Regions from separate parts of the Homo sapiens genome. Here region 2 is linked to region 1. The links come from fine-mapping of genetic effects on gene expression. Tissue or cell type: whole blood. Region 1 holds a variant in brackets; the other region holds the start of a gene. All regions are shown on one strand. Distances are between the middles of the regions.

What was found. PIP is the estimated chance that this variant, and not a neighbour inherited with it, causes the effect.
Region 2: it holds the start of DDX18, and the variant in region 1 is fine-mapped to the expression of DDX18 in whole blood (INTERVAL, PIP above 0.99).

Annotation. Positions count from the first base shown.
Region 1 is chr2:118,223,471-118,231,578 of GRCh38, forward strand. LOC105373578 (a long non-coding RNA gene) reads right to left here and starts at 3,118. Exons shown (of 5, transcript XR_923249.3): 1 at 310-3,118. RefSeq lists a silencer at 1,076-1,125. The variant T/TA (reference allele first, on the strand shown) is at 4,010.
Region 2 is chr2:117,811,233-117,819,340 of GRCh38, forward strand. DDX18 (DEAD-box helicase 18) reads left to right here and starts at 3,459. Exons shown (of 14, transcript NM_006773.4): 1 at 3,459-3,630; 2 at 6,212-6,496. The coding sequence starts at 3,546. RefSeq lists enhancers at 3,221-3,515, 3,243-3,780, 3,326-3,455, 3,586-3,635, 3,656-3,705 and 1 more.

The sequences.
Region 1 (8,108 bases):
ATATTTTGCTTTATCACGCCTGGCGTGAAAAGAACCAAGAACACTGAACCCAGGGCAGCAGCGAATCCCACGCCCCACGCTCCCTCTTCCCAAACCTCAATATCGTTGCTTAAAATCTTCCGGGCTTATTGTGAAGCCAAGGGCGCTTGGCATGGGAAGAGAGCCGCTCGTGATTTATTTGGGAGAGGGATGGGGTTTTGGAAAGGAAATTGGGGGGTTTACAAGGAGGACGGGTGGGTTTTACTCAACAACTTATTCTTGGGCGTTTTCGTGGACTGGAGAGGAGTTTCGATCCCGTCTCGGGCTCACCTGGGAAGCCCCCTCCTGGCGCCCGCTTTGTTTGGCGTTCCTTTAAAGCCCGGTGTTGGCAGAGCGACCCACAATGAAACAAATTCTCATTTTATGACGTCTTTCCCCCCGTAGGAGTCCGAACAATGTCTGGGGGCTTGGCACGCATGAAGATAAAAGAATTTTATTTTAAATGCGATACATGTCAGGATTAGACAGCGTTTCCTTTCAGCTAAACTACAGAGCGAATCTTCATTTCCTGTTTCACTGCTTCCCCCGAAAGAAACTTTTCTTTTTCTTTTTCTTTTTCTTTTTTTTTCTTTTCTTTCTCTCCCCCAGCAGAGAGTCCGAGAGAAAAGTGCTGGGCACAGAGCTCCCCACGAGGTCCCCGGAAAGCAGACTTAGCTCCTGATCGTTGTCAATCTTTGGGCAACCCGGGGCCTCGCAACGGCTCGGGTTTAGTGTGATCTGGGGAGGCTGCAGCCCAGTTCCGGCTACCGTGGGCGCCTGAGCAGAGCCGGGGCGAGTTGTAAACCTCAGAGAAAGGCACTTGTCCCCAGCAAAACGCTTGGAGAGGACCGTGCACGCTGTGCTGCCCCCGCCCCGAGACGCGCCGGGCCGCCGGGTCACCGGTTTTCCGAAAGGGACCCGGCAGAGACAAAGTGCCTTCGCCGCTGCGATAGGTTGGTTTTACTTTGCAATAAACAGCCCCTAATGGGACCGGGCGCCGGGCGGAGAGCTCGGCCCGGGGCGCGGCCTTTGCCGCCTGGCTCTGCGGGCCGCCCCGCCGGGCGCCAGGTTTTGGGGGGTGGCCCGGCCCCGCGTCCGCCACTGCAGGCCGCTCTCCTCCTTCCCGCGCACACAGCGGAGAAAAAAGGACGCAAACAGCATTTTACACTTTTCCCACTTTAGCGGGAATCGGAGGAGCCGGGCGAGAAAGCCCGAAAAGGGAGGCGGTTATTTACGACCGGCGGGTTGGAGTCTGGCACCAGATGGTGGGGGTCTGTCAGGCCCGGCCGCCCCGCCCAGCGCCCCGCAAACAGCGCCCGGTTGGCAGCGTCGCCTGAGCAGCCCCCATCTTCGCTTCCAGCCCCTCCCGTATATTTTCTCCCGTCCAAGTCGATCAAAGACGGACTTTAAAAATTACTCGCAATTAGACCCAAAAAAGTCATTCGTGATCTTTGGGTATTAGCACTTAACGGCCAGTGGTCTCTCCTTTCCCTCTGGAGGAGGTCGGGGTGGGGGCGACTGGGACCAGGTGGAAGGTAGTGTAGGGTTAAGAAGCGTCAGACCTCGGAGAAGGGCCTCACTTCCTCTTCGTTTTGTCGCCCTTTGTGTTACATACGGGGCAAGCAAGGTCTGCCAATCACTACCATTTCTCTTTCTTGTTCTATAAAGACAGGGTCGTCACAGCAACAGGGACATGACAGGCTGGTATCTCTCTCGAGCTCCAGGGGGCCCCTAATAGGATTGAAGCGAAAGATCAAGCGAATGGTTTCCTATTTTAGGCCCGTAATAACTCCCAACTGCTTGCATATACATGGGCCTTACAGTATTGAGGCAACTTTTAATCCCAGAAAAGAGCAGCCTGTTTTCTAGCAGGGTCTATTTTTGAATACCCTGTGGGATCCTCCCTCTCTCACCATCCTCCATCCTCCCCTTGATTTTGGGGAGTCAGGGTAAGAAGGAATCCCCTCCTCTGATTTTACTTATCACTCCTTCCCCAGAAGCTGAAGGTGTCCTTTCTTTTCATTAATTCATTTTACCAGCTCAAAGTAAATACTCCATTTGGAGGAAACAAAGACACCCCTTTTTGGTATTCTGTTGAAGTCCCTGGGTGAGATCAGAAGTTTCCACATCTTTTGGAGAAACTGGCCTTGGATGTACTTTGGCCAGACCTCTCCCCCCACCTCTCCAACACACATACCTACAAAACCAAAAAGCAACCTAAGGAGGAGTGAAAAGGTTTCTCTCCCCCAGGCCATTTATGTTCAAAACGAAACGTGAGGCCACGTGGGTGTGGGGAGTGCGTGTGCTGGGTGGGTGTCCTTTATCTGTGTGTTTCTGGAGTAGAGAGAGGAAATAAATGAAATGCGTGCGGCAAGAGGAGCGGTTTGTTTTCACCCCCAAGACCTGGGAAAACCCATCAAAAGAGATTGACTTCAGAAAACCGAGAATGCCTGGGAAATCTGAATGCAAACAGCCCTGGAATAATCAGCACCACCAACATCTGTCACCACAGCTGTTTCTTTTCTGGTTGGTGAGAGAACCCGTCTCTCTTCTGTGGGTTGGCAATGAACTCCAAGTAAGGGGCCCATCGTCTTTCTCTTCCAAACAGAATCCTCCAGGTCTCTGTTTATTTAGCCTGCTTAAAAGTAGAACACAATACAAAACAAAACAAGCATAATATTGCCACCTTTTAGGTGAAAATAAGTAGCCTGGTAAAGTAGGTTAGGAAGAATTATTCTTGACCTGTGGTCACAGATGAGGAAACTGAGGCATGGGGACAGCCTTTGATTTTCAAATTGATATCCAGTAAAAAATCAGAATTAATAAATCCAATCCTCAGCTCTTGGAAGGCACTCCGTTAAAAACAAAAAAAGCCCCCCAAAACAGGTGAGTAGTTGTATTATGTTTTTTCTTTTCATTCAATTCACAAATAATTATTAAGCTTATGGAACGTGGAAAACAAAATGCTTTGTTTTGCTGGGGGGAGAGAATGAAATATCTTCCTTGCCCTAAGAGAATATGTCTTCTGGGAGGGGCACTGTGACAAGCAAAGACATAGATACCAGGAAGTGCATGGTTACAGCAATGTGGTGGCTTGATCTGAGGTTATGGGAGGGAAGCCTGACAAGGGAACAAGGACACGTGATGTCTGGCTGGAGTAAGGAGCAGAGAATTCATGAAAGAAGCAGTAGCATTTGCCTAGGAGTTGAAGATTGGTTGAGATTTCGATGAGTTGAGGTGGGAGAAAGGCATTCAAATGCAGGGAACAGCATGCAATCCGGAGGGAACAACAAATTAGTTTTTGTTTCAGAGGATGGAGGGAGATAGAGCAGGAATGAAAGAGGAGAGAGATAAAGGCAGGCTAAGACTTGCCTGTGGATGAGGGGAGCCCCAGAGTGACAGACCTAGGGGGCATTTGTAAAAGGTGAATCAGGGGCTGTGCCCAGGAAGGATTTGGGGTTGGGCAGAAGGCCTGGATTCTGAGATCCCAGTGGGAGGCTATGGTGGTCATAAGGAATGAGGGCTGCTACAGGCCAGTGTTATGGGGATGGAGAGAAAGAATGATTTGGTAAGATTTGATGGCCAAAGCACATGGAGCTCAAAGCAGAGAGGCAGGTCAGAGGTGACTGGGCTTTCAAACCTGGGTAACCAGAGAATAAAAGACAGCCTCGTTATATGCAAGAAATTAAAATAGCATTTAAGGCTGGGCGCGGTGGCTCATGCCTGTAATCCTAGCACTTTGGAAGGCCAAGGCAGGTGGATCACGAGGTCAGGAGATTGAGATCATCCTGGCTAACACAGCGAAACCTCATCTTTACCAAAAAAAAAATACAAAAAATTAGCCGGGTGTGGTGGCACGTTCCTGCAGTCCCAGCTACTCGGGAGGCTGAGGCAGAAGAATCACTTGAACCCAGGAGACGGAGGTTACAGTGAGCCAAGATTGCACCACTGCACACCAGCCTGGGCAACAGAGCAAGACTCCATCTCAATT[T/TA]AAAAAAAAAAAAAGCTTTTAAATCTACCATTACATTCATTGCAGCAGTGTTTAAAACATTGAACACTTCATTATAACAGAGAAACTCAGACACCAACATTGACGATCTTTCTTCCAGTGTTGAAGAGCTTTCTTTGTCAAAGCTGGGCACTTGGCCTCATGGTTGAGCTTCAGCCAGACTTAGAAAGCCAGCATCCCAGAGCTCAGTGACTTTGTAGGGTGGACGGAAAACCAGCTTGTAGAAGCTAAATTTTCCCCAAGACACATTACTCCTCCTTAGCATTCGTTACCATTTTTATACCATTATTGAGAAAGAAAATTAGAGAAAGATACCCCAGAGGCATTTTCTCCGCAACTGCCAGGAAGTGAGGAAATGTTCCAACGATGAAACTGATCTGGCATTTGTTTACTTTTCAGTTGCATCCAGTGTCTGCTTAAGAATGTTCTGATGGGCAGATACCTAGATTATCACACAGCAAATGCAAGCCAGAAAGGTGATAAATAGTGAAAAGGGCACCAGACTGGGCATGTGGGTTGGGAGTTCCCTTCCTGGTCCTGCCTGCTAGCTTGTGTGGCCTCATCCATGCAGCGGCACTCTCTGCCCTAGTTCCCTTCCTGAAAAACGAGGTGAATTGGGTGATTTTAAAGGTTCTTTCCAGCTCTGTGTGAGTGGATCAGTGATGTGCCTCTTGCTTTGGGTTTTCCCCAACTCTTTTTTCTCACATTCTGCATTCTGCTTTGCATGTGCAAACAGAAGGGATATTTATGTCAGATGATTTAGACCTTACTCTGGTTTTTAATAACTTTATTGACATTGAACTTTATTAATATTTTTAAAGCATCATTCTGTCTATTCTCCCTTGATCCACAAAACTGCCATGTAAAGTAAGTAAGCCAGGAGTTTTATTCCCAAATGTGCAGCTAATGATAACAATGATGATTTCTATTTACAGAGTGCCTGCCACATGTCAACATATGCCTTATATTGAATGTCTCACTTAATCACCACAATCTTCTAGGTACTGTTACTCCCACTTTACAGATAAGGAAGCTGAGACTTGTAGGGGCTGGGCCTCACCGAATGCCTCCAGCTTCCTGATGGCTGAGTCAGGATTTCAATCCTGGTCTATCAACTCCAACTCTGTGCTCTCTAAGACCTTTGGAGGTTATGTAAGGGTTGTCAACTGTCTTCCTCTACTACCCAATATTTTTTGTGGACATTTACCTCTGTACCATCAGAGAAAACCGTTGGCCAATGTGACCCTCCATTTGCTTTGTGGGCTTCCATGGCCTCCCCATGTGAAATATAAGGCCCAGATTTAAATCAGGCAAGCTGTTGACAAATGTCTATCAAGCACCCAGTATGTGTCTTACAGTCTACCACAGGCTTTGGAACCCTGAAGAAGTATTAGAAATGTCTCCTTCCATCCAGATTTTACAATCTGAGATGAAGAAACTAATTGAGCGAGTACAACATCAGTGAACGAGCAGTGTCCTGTGTTATCATGGAGACCACCAAACTTTATGGAAAGCTCATTCTGCTCCCACTGCAGCCTGGACTGTTTGGCTTAATTCTCATGAAAAGCTTATTTGATGGCTGCTACACAGTGAGAGCTTGTTGACAAAATCTACAACCAACATGCTGGTCCAAAGCAAAGACAGTTGGGGAACTTGTTCTTTGTGCAGTGGCGTCTTTGTCCTGGCCTTTGATTTGTTTCCTGGTATTTTAGCCCTGGAATTAATAGGTAAGCCAAACAGACCCAGTTCTGGCCATTATTGCATACTAATAATGGCTCAAAACAGTGGCTTGAAGCAACACACATTTATTCTGCTTTTGAATCCGAGGGTCAACTGGGCTCCGTGAGGCAGTTCTTGCTTAGGGTTCCTCAGACACTTGTAGTCAGGTGGTTCTGGGGCTGAGGTCATCTGGGAAGCTTCTTCACTCATGTGTCTGGAGCCTGGGCTGGGAAGACTCAGACAGCTGGGACCCCTTGGGCATGTCTCTCTAGGTGGCCTCCTCATGTGGTCTCTCTGTAAAACCATGAGAAGGCCCAGGAAGGCTCTCAGTGGCCTCCTTTGGGTCCTGTGCCCATTCTTGAACTCATCACTGTGGCCAGAGGGAGTTGTGCTTTGATTCTTATCTTGTTCTTACCTTGGGTCAACTCCACCCAAACTACTTAGACTGAATGTGGAAAAATGATGACTCCCAAGGGAAAATTGAAGTGAGGATGGATGATGGAAAATTAAGGCTAGCTGAGGTCCACTGGAGTTACTTGTTTCTTGCTGGTACTCATAGATGTTTGTTGATCATGGTATTGGATGGGGATAGGTCTCATACCCCTTTCCCTGAGATGCTGAGACCAGTGGCTTCTCTGCCTGGACTGGAAGCTACACATAGCTACACATAGCCTAGGGGTTGGAGCAGTGGGCAGCTTGGGGTTTTTATGAACCTACACTTCGGCTGAAGTTGCATTTTCCTACATATGTACCTTTGCTTATGCCATCTTCGCCACTCAGCATGGCCTTTCTACCCATGTCCACCATTTTAAATTAAATTGTCCAATTTGTAAGGCCGGATGTAAGAGCACACTAGCCAAAGATGAACTTTTTGTCCTCCGATCTCTGTGGCCTTGCTGTTCGAAGTGGAGCCCAAGCGCCAGCAGCATCAGCATCCCTTGGAAACTTGTCAGCAGTGTGGTCTTACTATGTACCTCAGAGCTACTGAATTAGAACCTGCATTTTAGCATGATTCCAGGTGTCATGTGGGCACAGCAAAGTCTGGGCAGCGCAATGCCAGAGCAGCAGTTCTCAGAGTGTGGTCCGGGAAAAGCTGAAGGTCTCTGAGACCCCTTCAGGGGGTTGGAAAGGTCAAACAATTTCCATACTAACATACTAATTTCTGCTGTGATAAATATAGCCGGGTGCAGTTATTCACACCTGTAAGCCCAGTACTTTGGGAGGCCGAACAAGTGGATCACTGGAATTTAGAAGTTCAAAACCAGCCTGTGCAAAATGGTGAAACTCTATCTCTACAAAAAAATTCAAAAATTAGCCGGACATGGGAGTGTATACCTGTAGTGCCAGCTACTTGGGAGGCTGAGGTGGGAGAATTGCTTGAGCTGGGAGGTTGAGGCTGCAGTGAGCCATGATTGTGCCACTGTACTCCAGCCTGGGAGACAGAGTGAGACCCTGTTTCAAAAAAATTAATGATAAATAAATAAATACAAATAGACATATGGCCAGGCGTGGTGGCTCACGCCTGTAATCCCAGCACTTTGGGGGGTCAAGGCTGGCAAATCACTTGAGCCCAGGAGTTCAAGACCAGCCTGGGCAACATGACGAAGCCCCGTCTCTACAAAGATTACAAAAATTAGCTAGGCATTGTGGCATGTGCCTGTAGTCCCAGTGACTTGGAAGGCTGAGGTGGGAGGATTGCTTGAGCCTGGGAGGAGGAGTCGCAGTGAGTCAAGATCGTGTCACTGCACTCCAGCCTGGGCGAAAGAGCAAGACCCTGTCTCAAACAAATAAACTCTCTCTCTCTCTATATATATATATATTTATATTTATGTATGTCTATATATTATGTATTTATATGTTTGCATATAAACATATAATATATATTATATATTTATATAAGTATATAGTTGATTTATATAATATATAACCTATTTTATATATAAACATTATATTTTATGTATTATGTTTATATATGTATATATGATATATTTATATATGTAAACATATAATTATATTGTATAATAAAGTATATTTATATATTTTTATATGTATTATAGGTAGACATAAACCACATAAGTTTTAAGAGTGTAAAGGGATTCTGAGACCAAAACATTTGAGAACTGCAGCTCTTGATCCTTCTGTCTCTGGCTAGGGAAAGTGTTGACCTTCCCTCCGCACTCTGGCTTCCGGCACTGAGCACAGCCCGCTAAGGGCATTGAAAGAGATCAACCTATACCTCCTTAGCCTTGAGGACAAGGAGAGGCTCCAGGGGTCACCCCCACCCACCCTGGGCATCAGGCTCTATGTAATCCACTTGCCAGGCTCATGGCTAGACACACAGCTCCTGAATATATATTTGCTG
Region 2 (8,108 bases), 410 kb before region 1:
GGATAGATGGTATTTTTTTAAATTAATAAATGAATAAACTTCTTGACAGAAAAGTTTCTGTTATATGTTTCTGTATCCTCTCCAGCTCCTAGGACCACTGCAATAATGACTTGTCATGAATTGTGGTGATGCTCTTTAAAATAATCTCTCACTCTTATGTCCATCAGTTCACTGAAGAAAACCTTTCTTAAGTACCAGCCATCTGCTTTCTACAATGTAGAAATACACAGAACCAGATGCTGGTCCAGGAAAGTCAGGTAATGTGAAGGAGGCAACATCATGCTTATTTACAATAACATAGCACTTTTTAAGTTCCAATACACAACAGAGTGGTTAACCTTATAGAAAATAGCATTTGAAAGTTCCTAGAAAATCACTTCAAGAGTCCTAATGCAGTGATCCGAGAGGATGAGTCAGTTATTTCTGGCTCACAATTCTATGATGTTGGTGAAATAGATTGATTTCTTTTCCCAGTGAAGTGGGACGTTTTTAATTTGAATGACAAACTACACAAATCTGCGTTTTATTTTACAAACACTTGTCTCAGGTTTAAGGATCTCAAGTGAAAACTGAAAAACAAAACAGCATGAATAAGACCTGTTCTATGTTAAACTTAATTATTTTTAGTCAGGAGGTAAAAGACAGAAACTCCTGGCCAGGTGCGGTGGCTCATGCCTGTAATCTCAGCACTTTAGGAGGCTGAGGCGGATGGATCACCTGAGGTCAGGAGTTCGAGACCAGCGTGAATAACATGGAGAAACCCTGTCTCTACTAAAAATGCAAAATTATCTGGGTATAGTGGTGCATGCTTGTAATCCCAGCTACTTGGGAGGCTGAGGCAGGAGAATCACTTGAACCCAGAGGCGGAGGTTGCGGTAAGCCAAGTTCGCGCCATTGAACTCCAGCCTGGGCAACAAGAGCAAAACTCTGTCTCAAAACACACAAACAAACCAACAAAAAAAAGACAGCAACTCCCTTCCTGCTTCTGCCTGCTGCTGGCTCAGTCCCTATGCATAATGAATATTGAATGACAGACTCCATCCCCAGACCCCTTCCCAAGGCTAGGATGTTGCTCCTGTGATGTGCTTCCTTTTCACTGCATTCATCATAGTTTACCATAATCGTTTAATTTTCTGTCTTCCTTGTAAGCTCTGTAAGCTCCACCTAGGCGAGCCAGGTCTATCTTGTCCACCATTTTATACCCAGGATTTGGCACATGCCTACCACACACTCTTAGCACAAAAATGCTCAAAAAATAGTTGCATAATGACTATATTATGCGATTGTTTTATGGCGAATGACCATATTCTGAAGAGAGAGACCTCTGTGATGGAGAGCCCAAGCAAGAAGTTTTAAAGACTGAAACGCATTCTGAATAGATACTGGGATAGGCTCCAGCTGTGAAGAACAACAGGCTTTTCAGAAGCACGTGATTGTTACCTCATCCTCACAGGTAATTTTTGAGTAGCTAACCCAATGACATTGTTTTCTTTGCTAGAGTAACTGATGATGTGGCCTTGGAAATTCACTCTGTTAAAAATAACTCTCAACCCTAATTTTGAGAGTTGATTTGAAGTTATAATTTCTCATTCTTCTTCTAAAAATCCAGAAGAATTGGCATCAGTAGCTTTATCTATGTTTCTTAAAAGGTTATCAATCCCTAACGTTAAGCATTTCCATGCACCTGAAAGGATCGGCTTCTCTGATCTAAATGTCTTAAACACCTCGTAAATGTGGGTTTTTTTGGTTTTGAGGAAATGACTGCCAATCTTCACTACTAGCTAGAAAAAGTCACACTCTAGAAAAAAGGGAGTACCTTTCCATTACTACTACCAAAACATAGCCCCACAAATTTAAGTTACAACATAAAAGAAATAACAAATTTTGAGCACTTTCTATATATACTTCAGTTGTATCTATTTCAAAGTCACAGACCCAAAACTCACACATGTAATCAGGTAAATATATATGTATGTACATAGAGCTATAGAAATAGATACATATGTGTATATGCATATATATACTGATATATGCATAAATTTAAACTGGCATATATATTTACACTGAGATAAATGTTTGCGTGTGTGTGTGCGCTCTTACATTTCTGAATCATTCTTCAGCCTGCCTGATCATTAACAAATTAATCTAAGCACATTATTATTTGTTTGTCTTAGTTTTCCAGTCCAATCCAATGTGATTTCGAAGTCAATTCCTTCACATTCTGTTTAAACTCCCTCCCAAGTTTTCTCCCTCTCTGTTCCTCACTATGATCAGGTCTAATCTCCAGGGTCTCATGTTCTGCCCCTCCAAGTAAACAAATTAATCCAGGTTTCATGGACTCTTCCAGTTGTTCAGCTCAAATTGATTACTGTTAAGGGGAATTTGAGGGCATTGGGCCAATTTTTAAAGACAAATATGAATTTTTATGGAAATCTCCAAGTATTTTAATGTTGATAACAATTTTTTTAAAAATTAAATACTATATGCATACCCCTGTCTTCCTCCCCATCCCAAAAAAGAGATGACTATTAGCTAGCCACATTGCAATTTCTGTCCTGGACTGCTGAAGGGTCCTTGGGTATACTTAAGGAATATATAAACCTCTTTTTCAAACTGCAGTCAACCTATTATTAATGTAGTAAAGTTAATTTAAATTCATAGGAATCAGTATTTTTAGTAAGCTAAAAAGAATAATTTAGGATGGAATGAATGGAATTGAAGGAAAAAGAGTGAAAAGCAAGAATATTATTTTGAGAAATGTTATATTTATGTGTGTATGTGTACCAAGTGACACAGAAATTGTATTTCTGAGGAGAGTGGCCAAACAAGTTTGGAAATGCATATATATAATTTAGTTCTATTCAGTTTCCCAAATACAGTTGTCCCTCAGTATCCACAAGGGATTGAGTCCAGGACCCTCTATGGGTACCAATATCTTAGGATACTCAAAACCCTTATATACAATAGTGTAATATTTGCATTTATTTTACACACAACATCCTGTATACTTTAAATCATTTCTAAATGACTTATAATACCTTATACAACCTAAATGCTATGAAAGTAGTTATCACACTGTATTATTTTTAATTGTTTTTTTTTTAATGTTTTCAATGGGGGAGTTGGTTGAATCCACAGACAGGGAATTCAGGTACAGGGAGGGCCAACTCTAGTTCTGCACCCACAGAGGATAGGAACATAAAAATGCGGACTCCCTAAGGCCTCCTTCCCCTCCACGTTCTTTCTTCAGTCTTCCTCTAGGGGGAGCTCAAGTTAGCTTTAGCACAGTGTGAAGCCAGTGCAGCGTCTCGCTTCCACTTCTCCAGGGGGCGCTGCAAAGATTTTGGTCGCCAAAGATATCACGGTGCGCGCGTCTGGAAGCATTTCCGCTCTGGAGCATTTTCGTTCCGCCGGGTGCCAGCGTTCCTGTGACGCGTTTCCTGTTGGCCGAGCTGCGCACGTGCGGCCGGAAGGGAAGTAACGTCAGCCTGAGAACTGAGTAGCTGTACTGTGTGGCGCCTTATTCTAGGCACTTGTTGGGCAGAATGTCACACCTGCCGATGAAACTCCTGCGTAAGAAGATCGAGAAGCGGAACCTCAAATTGCGGCAGCGGAACCTAAAGTTTCAGGGTGAGATGCGTTGACTCGCGGTGGCTCAGAAGACCCACGCGCGAGCCCTGGCGCGTTCGGGCGGCCGGGGGCCCAGCTGCTCTGTGTGACGGAGGCAGCTTCCCCTGCAGCGTGTGTGATTGGGGAGAGTGAAAAGGCAGCTTCCACTCGGGACCCGCGCTGCTGCCCACTCGTCGCGTGGCTCCAGCGCTGCTCCTGACCTTTCTGAGCAATCAGTGTCTTCTTACAACGTTAGAGCGGGAGGACTCCCCGTTCACTTCTAGGCTTACGACTAACCCTGCCTTTTGCATTTCCACCTTAGCTTTTGGTTCCCTCACCACCTGCAAGTCGCACCTCACCTCATCCCTCATTTCCGGTTATGCTGCATGAAACGTCTCATTTCCACCCACTTTTCACATCTATTTAATTCCCGTATTTCTTTCCCCAAAAGCCCGTCTGGCTGTTTCCACAGAGCTTCTTTGATACTATTGCCTTCCTCTACCCACTTCCACACGTTCTCGTAGCACTTTCTCACCAGAGCTTCTACGTATTTGTGTCCCGCACAGTGACCTAAATGAAAAGGATTTTATCTGAATGTCACCTTTCTTACCTACCTCATTTGCAGTCCCAGTGTCCTGACAGTGGGGCCACAGATCTTGAAGTAATTGTGTTAACCTGTTGTCCAGGTTAAGATACAAACTCCCCGAGGGAAAGTTTGGAGGCACAGTGCCTTGCCCCAGTTGGTTTTCAACAGACATTAATTGAAAAAAAATTCTGCAGGAGGCAATAGGTTTGTGAATTTTAGGAATATGTTTTGAAATACTCTTGTATTTCTAATTCCTATAGAATAATACTACAGCATTACTACTTTTCAGCGCATATGTAAGTAAATTTGAACAAAAGATGGTGTTTTATCTTTTTCAGTAAACAAACAGGGAACCTTTGGTAAGGACATTCTCAGGTACAGTCATGCATCGCATAACAGGAGGGGGGATACATTGTGAGAAATGTGTCATTAGGGGCTTTTGTCGTTTTGCGAACTTTATCTAGTTACACAAACCTAAATCTACTACACACCCAGGCTACATGATATAGCCTGTTGCTCGTAAGCTGTCATCCTGTACAGCATGTTACTGTACTATACTCAGAGAATTGTAACACAATGGTAAGTGTATGTATGGCTAAATATATCTAAACATAGAAAAGGTACAGTAAAAAGACTATGACATGAGAGATTTAGAAAATGGTACCTCTGTATACAGTACTTACCATGAATGGAGTTTGCAGGACTGGAAGTTACCCTGAGCGAGTCAGTGAGCGGTGAGTGAATGTGAAGGCCTAGAACATTACTGTACACTATAGACTTTATAAACACTGTACACTTGGGCTACACTGTTGAGTTTTTTAATACTTTTATTCTTAAATTAACCTTAGCCTGCTGTAACTTTTACATTATAAACTTGTTAAATTTTAACCTTTTGACTTTAATAACACTTAGCTTACAACACAAGCACATTGTACATACAGCTGTACAAAAAGTTTCCTTTTGTCCTTATTCTATGTGATTTTTATTTTATTTTTTTTTCTTTTTAAGCTTTTTGTTAAAAATGTAAAGACACAGACACATTCAGTTTCACTGTCTTCCGCTTCCACATCTTGTCCCACTGGAAGATCTTCAGGGGCAACAATAGGCATGGAGCTGTCATCTCCTATGATAACAGTGCCTTCTAAAATACCTCTCTCCCTGAGGCTCTTTTACAGTCGACTCATTTTTTTTTAATAAGTAAAAGGAGTAAACTCTAAAATGATGATCAAAAGTATAGTAAACACATAAACAAGTAACATAGTTTATTATCACGTATTATGTATTGTACATAATTATGTGTGCTGTACTTTATACGACTGGCATTACAGTAGATTTGTTTATACTAGCATCACTACAAACATGAGTAATATGTTGCACTACGACATTGCAGTTACTGATGGCACTAGGTGATAGGAATTTTTTAGCTCCGTTATAATCTTATGGAGCCACTGTATATGTTGTCCTTAATTCACAGAAATGTCATTGTGCACGCATTACTGTATTTGCATATGATAAATATTGGAGCAAATAAGTGGTCTTATCAACTGAATTTTCAACTCACTGCAGTCTAGAAGAGTTGGGGTTGAATGTTTTGAAGTGGTATGAAAAATAGTACTTGTGTGAATGAGTTGTAAATGTCTTTTTCAATATATCAGTTAATCATATGTTTATCAAATACTTATGTTTATTCTGTAACTGCCATTATCTGACCTCATCTGTTTAAATATTTGACCTCATTGAAGTTTTCCTGTCCTAGACTCCTTAAAGTCAGATGTACGGTCTTTTGCAGTTAAGAAATCAATATAGCTTTCCCTTTTCCAGTATTTTTTCTTTAAGATAACTTACTTTCCCTATAAGGGAACACCATAAAACTATAAGTTGTTTTAATTACATGAAAGAGAAGAAAATCTAAATAATTTGTGTCAGGAAGCCATGGAAGTTCTCATTTGGGATTTCAGTGTTTCTAAGTAAACTTCTCCTTCTTTGTCACAGTATATGTTCTGTTTATTTAAACAGGGGCCTCAAATCTGACCCTATCGGAAACTCAAAATGGAGATGTATCTGAAGAAACAATGGGAAGTAGAAAGGTTAAAAAATCAAAACAAAAGCCCATGAATGTGGGCTTATCAGAAACTCAAAATGGAGGCATGTCTCAAGAAGCAGTGGGAAATATAAAAGTTACAAAGTCTCCCCAGAAATCCACTGTATTAACCAATGGAGAAGCAGCAATGCAGTCTTCCAATTCAGAATCAAAAAAGAAAAAGAAGAAAAAGAGAAAAATGGTGAATGATGCTGAGCCTGGTAGGTATTTATTATCTTTGAACTTCAGCCATTTAGTTTTTCACAGACGGTTATTGTTCCTCTTTCTATTACTATTGTGTGCACATGACATGAGAATTCCCTGTACTCACCAGTATGTTAGAGATTAGCCTGGTAGCTAATGGAAACATTTTATTGGCAGAAGCGGGGAGTCCATTTCAACTTTTCTCAAAATATTGAGGAATATATTTTTAATTTCACTAACCTTGAAGAAAACCTCTCTCAGAAAAGACTCTCCTTAGAATTCTAGAAATTTTCTCTTCTTTTTAAGTTACCTTTTTTCCTGCTTGATTCTTCCCATTTTCCTTCCATAAATTCCTCCCTTTGAAAGGAATATTAGTTACAAAGTATATAAAGTAGGAAACTTCTGAATAAATGGAACATTAATTTCCAAGTGCTAAGAATGGCAGGAGGAAAAGGAAGGAATGTTTTTTGAAGATGATGGAATTTCAGTAAGCTCGGATGAAAGAATGGACATTATAATTGAGATTTGTATAAGCAGAGATATCAAGGTAGGATAAGATAGGGGTCAGCAAACTATCCCTCCTTCTACCTGTTTTTGTAAATAAAGTTTTACTGGGTCATAGCAATGCCTATTTGGTTGTGTTTATGGCAACAGAGATCATATGACCTGCAAAGCCTAAACTATTTACTATCTGGCCCTTTGCGGAAAGTTTGCCAGCCCCTGAGTTGGAACATCCTATTCATGTATTTTACCTGAAATAAGGGTTTTATTTAGAAAGGGACTTTGAACTTTTCCAAACATGCATTACTGTCTTCATGATGCCTACACACAGAAGTCATTGTAATCCTGTTCTAAAATTATTGCCTTCACAATTCTTGTTTTGAGTATGCCCCAGGAAGTGGTATTATTTCTGCTCCCAAGCATTGAATCACAATGCTGGGCGTTTTAACCTTATGGGTTTTTTGTTTGTTTGTTTGTTTGTTTGTTTTATTATGAGATGGGGTCTCACTGTGTTGTCCAAGCTGGTCTTGAACTCCTGGGCTCAAGTGATCCTCCCACCTCGGCTTCCCAAAGTGCTGGGATTACAGGCAGAAGCCACCACACCCAACCACCTTATGGGTACATTTTAGGAACTATTCCAGGGAAAACAAAATAAGCCATGGAGACCAGCTGAAGATATCTGTGGCTTTTGAACATGTAGGTCCTACAAAGTTGACTCTTTCCTGGAAGGGTGGCCGTCAGGTACAGGGAGGAGACCAGTACTGAGCTACAGAGAGTCCTGGGTTGTGGTCTAAGTTCTTTTCAAACATCACTAATTGCCATATAGTTTTATATAAACACAGCATGTGGTTAATCCATTTGACCCAGAGTCGAACATTGAAAAGAGAAGTGAGAGGTAGGACTGAAAAGGTAGTTGGGGCCACATGAAAGTTGTGAATGTAGAAATGAGGGTGGGAAGAAGCCCTGCCTTTCCTCCCACCCTCATCCCTGATAGCCAAGGCACAGTCCAGTGTATGTCAGCCAGGCAAGTGGGTTGTTGCCCTTCCTTTACAGTCTATCTCTAGTAACATGAAGAGCCTTTGATAGTGATTGGCGTGGGAAGAAAAATGACTACTTATAATGAGTTTT